Homo sapiens: one gene and its partner. The protein of the gene in region 1 interacts with the protein of each later gene in a pairwise test. Each region holds a gene or a part of one and is shown on either strand. Other genes may lie near its edges.

Region 1 (3,837 bases):
ATTGGAATTAGAAATATCAGAAGAAACTTAAGCTTATATATAGAAACAGATAGACGAGAAATAAATGTAGATGTGTGTATTCATGTGCTGGTATATAAACATAGATTTCTTAACTTTCCACCTGAGAGGGCCTAGAAGTAATGACTACACCTAGTGTGATAATCTTGTTGTCTATCTACCATTATCCAATGAAAGCAACCAGAGCCCTTGGGAGAAATGGTCGATTCTAAGGCTGAAGCAGAAAAAATATTAGATAAGCCTGGCATATATTGTAATGTCAGAAGGAAAGACGCACTGAAAATATGATGGAAGCACGTCCATAGTACCTGGGCTACAGCTTGAAGGAGCTCTCAGTGAACTAATCTGGGACGAGTTGAGCAATGAGATAAATAGTGATAGTAAAGTGTTACCCATATGATAAATCTACACTGATCTACTATAGATCTACACTGATACAACTAAATGATTAAATAAGTAAATAAAATAAATAGAGGAGAAAGGGCAGTTCTTGCTCACATTAGAACTCTAATAAATGTAGAAGGAATGAAAATAGAAAATTACTTTTAGTCAAACATCACAGTAAGTTATAAGCAAGAATTATCAACAGATGCTAAAAATAGTGACTGAAAAAATTATGGAAGTATGATGAATCTTTATTTGCATAGTCTTCAAACTGTCTCTTCAAATGGTACTTTTTAGTGACAAAATGGTACATAACACTTTGTGGTAGAGAAACCTGGCAGAGAACACCTTAACCAAGTGATCAAAGTTAAGGTCACAGCACCAGAAAAAGTCATGTCAACATCATGAATCCCTTAATACAAGACACTGAAAATGGCAGAACATCACTTTGGTGACATTTGCAAAAAAAAATGTATAACTTCAATCTAATAATAAGGAAACATCAAAAAACCCAAATTGAGGGATATTCTACAAAATCATAGCCAGTCAACTTCTAAAATGTCAAAGACATGAAAGACAAGGAAAGAATAAGGAACTATCAAAGATGCAAGGAAAATACAGAAACATAATGACTAAATGCAATGAGGAATCCTGGATTGGGTCATGGAGCAGAAGGACATTAGTGGGAAACTGGTGAAATGTGAATAAGGAGTGTAAATTAGTTATCACTCTACCAATGTTAAAATCCTTGTTCTATGGTTATGGAAAATTTTAACTTTAGGGGAAATGATATATGGGAACTTTCCATACCCATTGTACATCTTTTCTGTAAGTGTATTTCAAAATAAAGTTATTTTTAAAGAAAGCCAGTGACCCAATTTGTAAGACAGCCTTAAAGAGAAACCAGGCTTTAAAAAACGTATATGAAAAAATGTTCAAGCATAGAAAACAAAAATTTAACCCATATTGTAAAGTTCAGCATAGCTAACTACCTAAAAACTGCTTTCCATTTCATCTTTTTCCTTGCACACAAGGGAACAACACCCTGGACATGGCTCCAGAGATCAACTTGCCGGGCCCAATGAGCCTCATTGATAACACTAAAGGGCAGCTGGTGGTGAATCCAGAAGCTCTGAAGATCCTATCTGCAATTACGCAGCCTGTGGTGGTGGTGGCGATTGTGGGCCTCTATCGCACAGGCAAATCCTACCTGATGAACAAGCTGGCTGGGAAGAAAAACGGTGAGTGACACCAGCAAAGCTCTAAGCCCCTTCTGTCCGTACACACGGCGAACATCCAGCTTAGGGATGTGAGCATAGAAAGAGATGAGAATGAATGTTGAAAGCTAACTTTCAGTCCATTAATGGGCTCTTTACATTGACTTTGGAGGATTACAGTCAACTGACTCTTCCCACTTTACTTTTATTTTATACTAAGGGTATAAATGTGCCTTTCTGGAAGGAACACAATGTTAATAAAGAAAATTAACTTCTATAATAATGACTTATAAAACATTTATTAAAATGTTCATGTAGTGACAGCAAGCTTTCAATGAACTTTAAGAAAAATATGAATGTTTCAGTGTGTATTAAATATCTAATTTTCCTGTTTCCAGGATTGTAATTAAGATTTATGCCAGTTGTATTTTCTTTTATCTCTTTTAACTTCAATTATGTTAACTTTTATCTCAATTTCCAGAAACACCTACTAAGTAATTTCTTTTCCCTTTTATCCTCTCCTTCTACAGGCTTCTCTCTAGGCTCCACAGTGAAGTCTCACACCAAGGGAATCTGGATGTGGTGTGTGCCTCATCCCAAGAAGCCAGAACACACCCTAGTTCTGCTCGACACTGAGGGCCTGGGAGATATAGAGAAGGTAAAAAAAATAAGTATTTTAAAAATTTCACTTAGGTAGATTAAAATCTACATAAACCAGGTCAGATCGATAACCATCTTTGCACAATCACTCCTACTCCTTGATTTAGGGCTCTAGTTAATTATATTAATATATTATTTCTTAAAATTTGTGTGGTATAAGCATTCAGAGTACACAATAAGTTCAATTGATTAATTATGGGTAAACCTATGAAATAATGGCTAATGATGTTTTCAGTTATTTCTCTTTCATATTATAGTAAAATGTTTTGGTGAGGCTGCTGAAGGTGCTTATAAACTTCAGTAGACGTTTTACAAACATGTCTGACTTTTTACAGTGGGATCCCACAAAGGTAGTAAAAATGTTCACATCCACACCAGCACCAGTAGAAAGAGAAGCAAAGTGTAAAATCTAATGATAACATCTTTGCTCATTAAGGATAATATATTACTACTGTTATAAATCTTAGACATAGAAAGCTTTTATTAAAGGAGCTTATTTTAACTACTGTGTAAAAAATATCTTACTATGATGTGCCATGGAAATGGAATAGGGTCATAAACTAAGTTTAGGGTACCAGTTTGAATTTTAGTAGCTGATCAAAATAGCTTCTCCTACCAAGTGCTCATGTGTTTCCTGCTGACATATATTTATATATAACACCTTAAATTATACATCATAAATATTATAAATTTGTTCTACAGGTAGAAAAAAATACTGCATAAGGAAGTGAGTTACCTAAGTTTTCAGAACTAATGAGAGACAGAGTTGGAGTTCAGTCAGTCTTCAGCTATCTGAATTGATTGTACATTCTGCTAGTCATTCTTCTTTGTGGCTTCTACAATGACTTACAGGGTGACAATGAGAATGACTCCTGGATCTTTGCCTTGGCCATCCTCCTGAGCAGCACCTTCGTGTACAATAGCATGGGAACCATCAACCAGCAGGCCATGGACCAACTTCAGTATCCTTTTTTGTGGTCCAGAACAGCAGTAAACCTAGAAAATAACAGCTTCATTTTTTCACCAAGTACAGAGGCAGACAGACAGGTACTGAAGAATTCATAAGTCCTCTCTTTAATAAATCTCATTATGCTGAACATCTCATTCTATCTCAATCTCCATCTGAACTTCAAGTCTTCCCAGTTACATGTCTCGTTAGATACTCAGCCACCCAAGACTCTGTATATCCTCTATCTGACTTAATCTCCTATGCCTGTCCAAACCTTCAATGTCCTCTAGAACTCATGTTCTCACTTCTGCAACTCTCTATATTCTTATCATCTGCTCTAAGTGTTGCCTTCTAAATGATACCTAGCTATACACTATAGATACTATTTCTCCTACAGACCTCTCCAGTGGTCTTATGTGATGACTATTTTTAATCCCATACCTTGCATATCATAAGTGTAAGAGATGAGTTAGGTATCCTCCTTGCTCCATATTAGAGTTCTGGACACTTTCTCATTCCTTTACCATTAAAAAGAGAATCTTCTTTAATATATATGCCCTCAGACTACACCACTATTTTTGTTGCAATTATCTAGCAACGTTCCAATAA
Region 2 (2,534 bases), about 61 Mb from region 1:
TGCACTCCAGCCTGGGCAACAGAGCAAGACTCTGTCTCAAAAAAAAAAAAAAAAGAGATTGAGACCATCCTGGCCAACATGTTGAAACCCTGTCTCTACTAAAAATACAAAAATTAGCTGGGTGTGGTGGCGCATTCCTGTAGTCTCAGCTAACTGGGAGGTTGAGGTGGGAGAATCGCTGGAACCGGGGAGGTGGAAGTTGCAGTGAGCTGAGATGGTGCCACTGCACTCCAGCCTGGTGACAGAGCGAGACTCCATCTCAAAAAAAAAATAACCTGCTCTTTATGTGCTGTTGAGTGAGTGCTTAATTTTAAAATACATACCATGCTCCTCTCCCATTTCTCATTCTGTGGAAATGAAATCTATGTTTAGGGAATCCTGGAGTACCACAGAAAGGCTGTAGATAACTAGCCAGCTTGATGTTTCATGTAAATAATGTGCAATATGAATCTGTAAATTCATTTTCCAGAGGGGTGCAGAGAGAGGCCCACCTTCTTTTGGCCTTTCTCTTCGGACTCAAAGTAAGCTATTAGGTGGAGGAGATGCATTATTGCAATACCACACAGTTTGCCATGCCTTTATTTTATGAGTGGCAATGGCACAGATAGGAATGTCAGCCCAGATGTGGATTAAATTTAAAGATAAGTATGTTGGCTGGGTGCGGTGGCTCACGCCTGTAATCCCAGCACTTTGGGAGGCCGAGGTGGGCAGATTACAAGGTCAGGAGATCGAGACCATCCTGGCGAACACGGTGAAACCCCGTCGCTACTGAAAATACAAAAAAAAATTAGTTGGGCGTGGTGGTGGGCGCCTATAGTCCCAGCTACTCAGGAGGCTGAGGCAGGAGAATGGCGTGAACCCGGGGGGCAGAGCTTGCAGTGAGCCGAGATCACACCACTGCACTCCAGCCTGGTCGTCAGCGAGACTCCATCTAAATAAAAAAGATTGTATGTTGAAGAACCAAGGGGTAGAAGTTACAGAGATGCTCCGATCGTTCAGCATGTGGAAGAACTATCAGATAGCTAGAACTGTCCAAACAGCAACAAACTTCCCCTTAAGAGTAGTGAGATCCCTGTTAATATTCAGAAGGTGATTAGAAAATGCTGGTTAGAGATGATATAGAAAGTTTTACTTTTTATAAAAAAAAAATCTCTAAAATATATTAGACTAAGTAAGATCTGTCAGAGTTCCTGCTTAGACTTTGTTTAATCCAAAAGGAGTATAGGATTGAGCAGGATGTTTCATGAGCTTTAGTCTAGTATGGAAAAGTAGATGTTTTTCTGTGGGATTCCATAATGCCCCTTGAGCTTTTTTGTTTGTTTGTTATTCCTTTGGAATGTTTTCTTGTCATTAAAGTACAAAATCAACAGGTGTATAGTTTTATGTCAATTTTATTGCAGTATAATTTACATATAATAAAATCTACACATTTACGTATATAGTTTTGGCAAATATATGTGTAACCACCACCATAATCAAGATAGAGAAGATTTCTCTCACTCCAAAAAGTTGCCTCGTAGCCCTTTGCAGCAGCCCACTCCCAGGCCCAGGCAGCCAGTAAATATTTTCTTCACTGTAGATTGGTTTTGCTCTCAGATTAATGTTTAAAAATTGGACACCAGGTCGGGCGTGCTGGGTCACGCCTGTAATCCCAGCACTTTGGGAGGCCGAGGCGGGCTGATCACCTGAGGTCCGGAGTTCAAGACCAGCCTGACCAACATGGAGAAACCCTGTCTCTACTAAAAATACAAAATTAGCCAGGCGTGGTGGCGCATGCCTGTAATCCCAGCTACTCCGGAGGCTGAGGCAGGAGAATGGCTTGAACCCGGGAGGCAGAAGTTGCTGTGAGCTGAGATCGAGCCATTACACTCCAGCCTGGGCAACAAGAGTGAAACTCTGTCTCAAAAAAAAAAAAAAAAAAAAATTGCACACCAAACATGGACATACCACATTTTTTCCCCCTCAAAAAAGGGTAAAATATCTATTGCCATCTTTTATCATTTCCATTTCCTAAAAGGGATTTTTTTAAAAATGTTTTTTATTTTTGAGACAGAGTCTTACTCTGTCACCCAGGCTGCAGTGCAGTGGCACCATCTCAGCTCATTGCAAACTCTGCCTCAAGTGATTCTTGTGCCTCAGCCTCCCGAGTAGCTGTGATTACAGGCACCTGCCACCACGCCTGGCTAATTTTTGTATTTTTAGTAGAGATGGGGTTTTGCCATGTTGGCCAGGCTGGTCTCAAACTCCTGATCTCATGTGTTCCTCCTAAAAGGGCATTTTAATATGAAATAAGAAAGTGAGCTATGTAACTTTAGGATAAATTAAATTGATATGTTTTACTTTATGTAAAACTCACAACACCATCCTTGGCTGATGTAGGATGGTGAAAACTTTGTTATGGAGCAGTGTTTGGGAACCATCGTAGATGACTGGAAAGGTCTCTTCAAACCGTAAGATTTCAACATCATGAAATAGGTTGTCTGGAAAGGAGAACAGGCTAGAAGTTAGGAATCTTTCCCAAAAGCCATTTTTTT

What was found.
Region 2: the proteins of GBP2 (region 1) and PPP1R8 interact in a two-hybrid assay, tested with the Homo sapiens proteins (one large-scale study listed by BioGRID and IntAct).

The regions. Positions count from the first base shown.
Region 1 is NC_000001.11:89,119,583-89,123,419, reverse strand, and holds part of GBP2 (guanylate-binding protein 2), read left to right. Parts: exon of another isoform or gene 1-1,436; 5' UTR 1,437-1,453; coding exon 1,454-1,643; exon of another isoform or gene 1,644-2,149; coding exon 2,150-2,277; exon of another isoform or gene 2,278-3,131; coding exon 3,132-3,241; exon of another isoform or gene 3,242-3,837.
Region 2 is NC_000001.11:27,847,469-27,850,002, forward strand, and holds part of PPP1R8 (nuclear inhibitor of protein phosphatase 1), read left to right. Parts: intron 1-2,534. UniProt on the Homo sapiens protein: Inhibitor subunit of the major nuclear protein phosphatase-1 (PP-1). It has RNA-binding activity but does not cleave RNA and may target PP-1 to RNA-associated substrates. May also be involved in pre-mRNA splicing.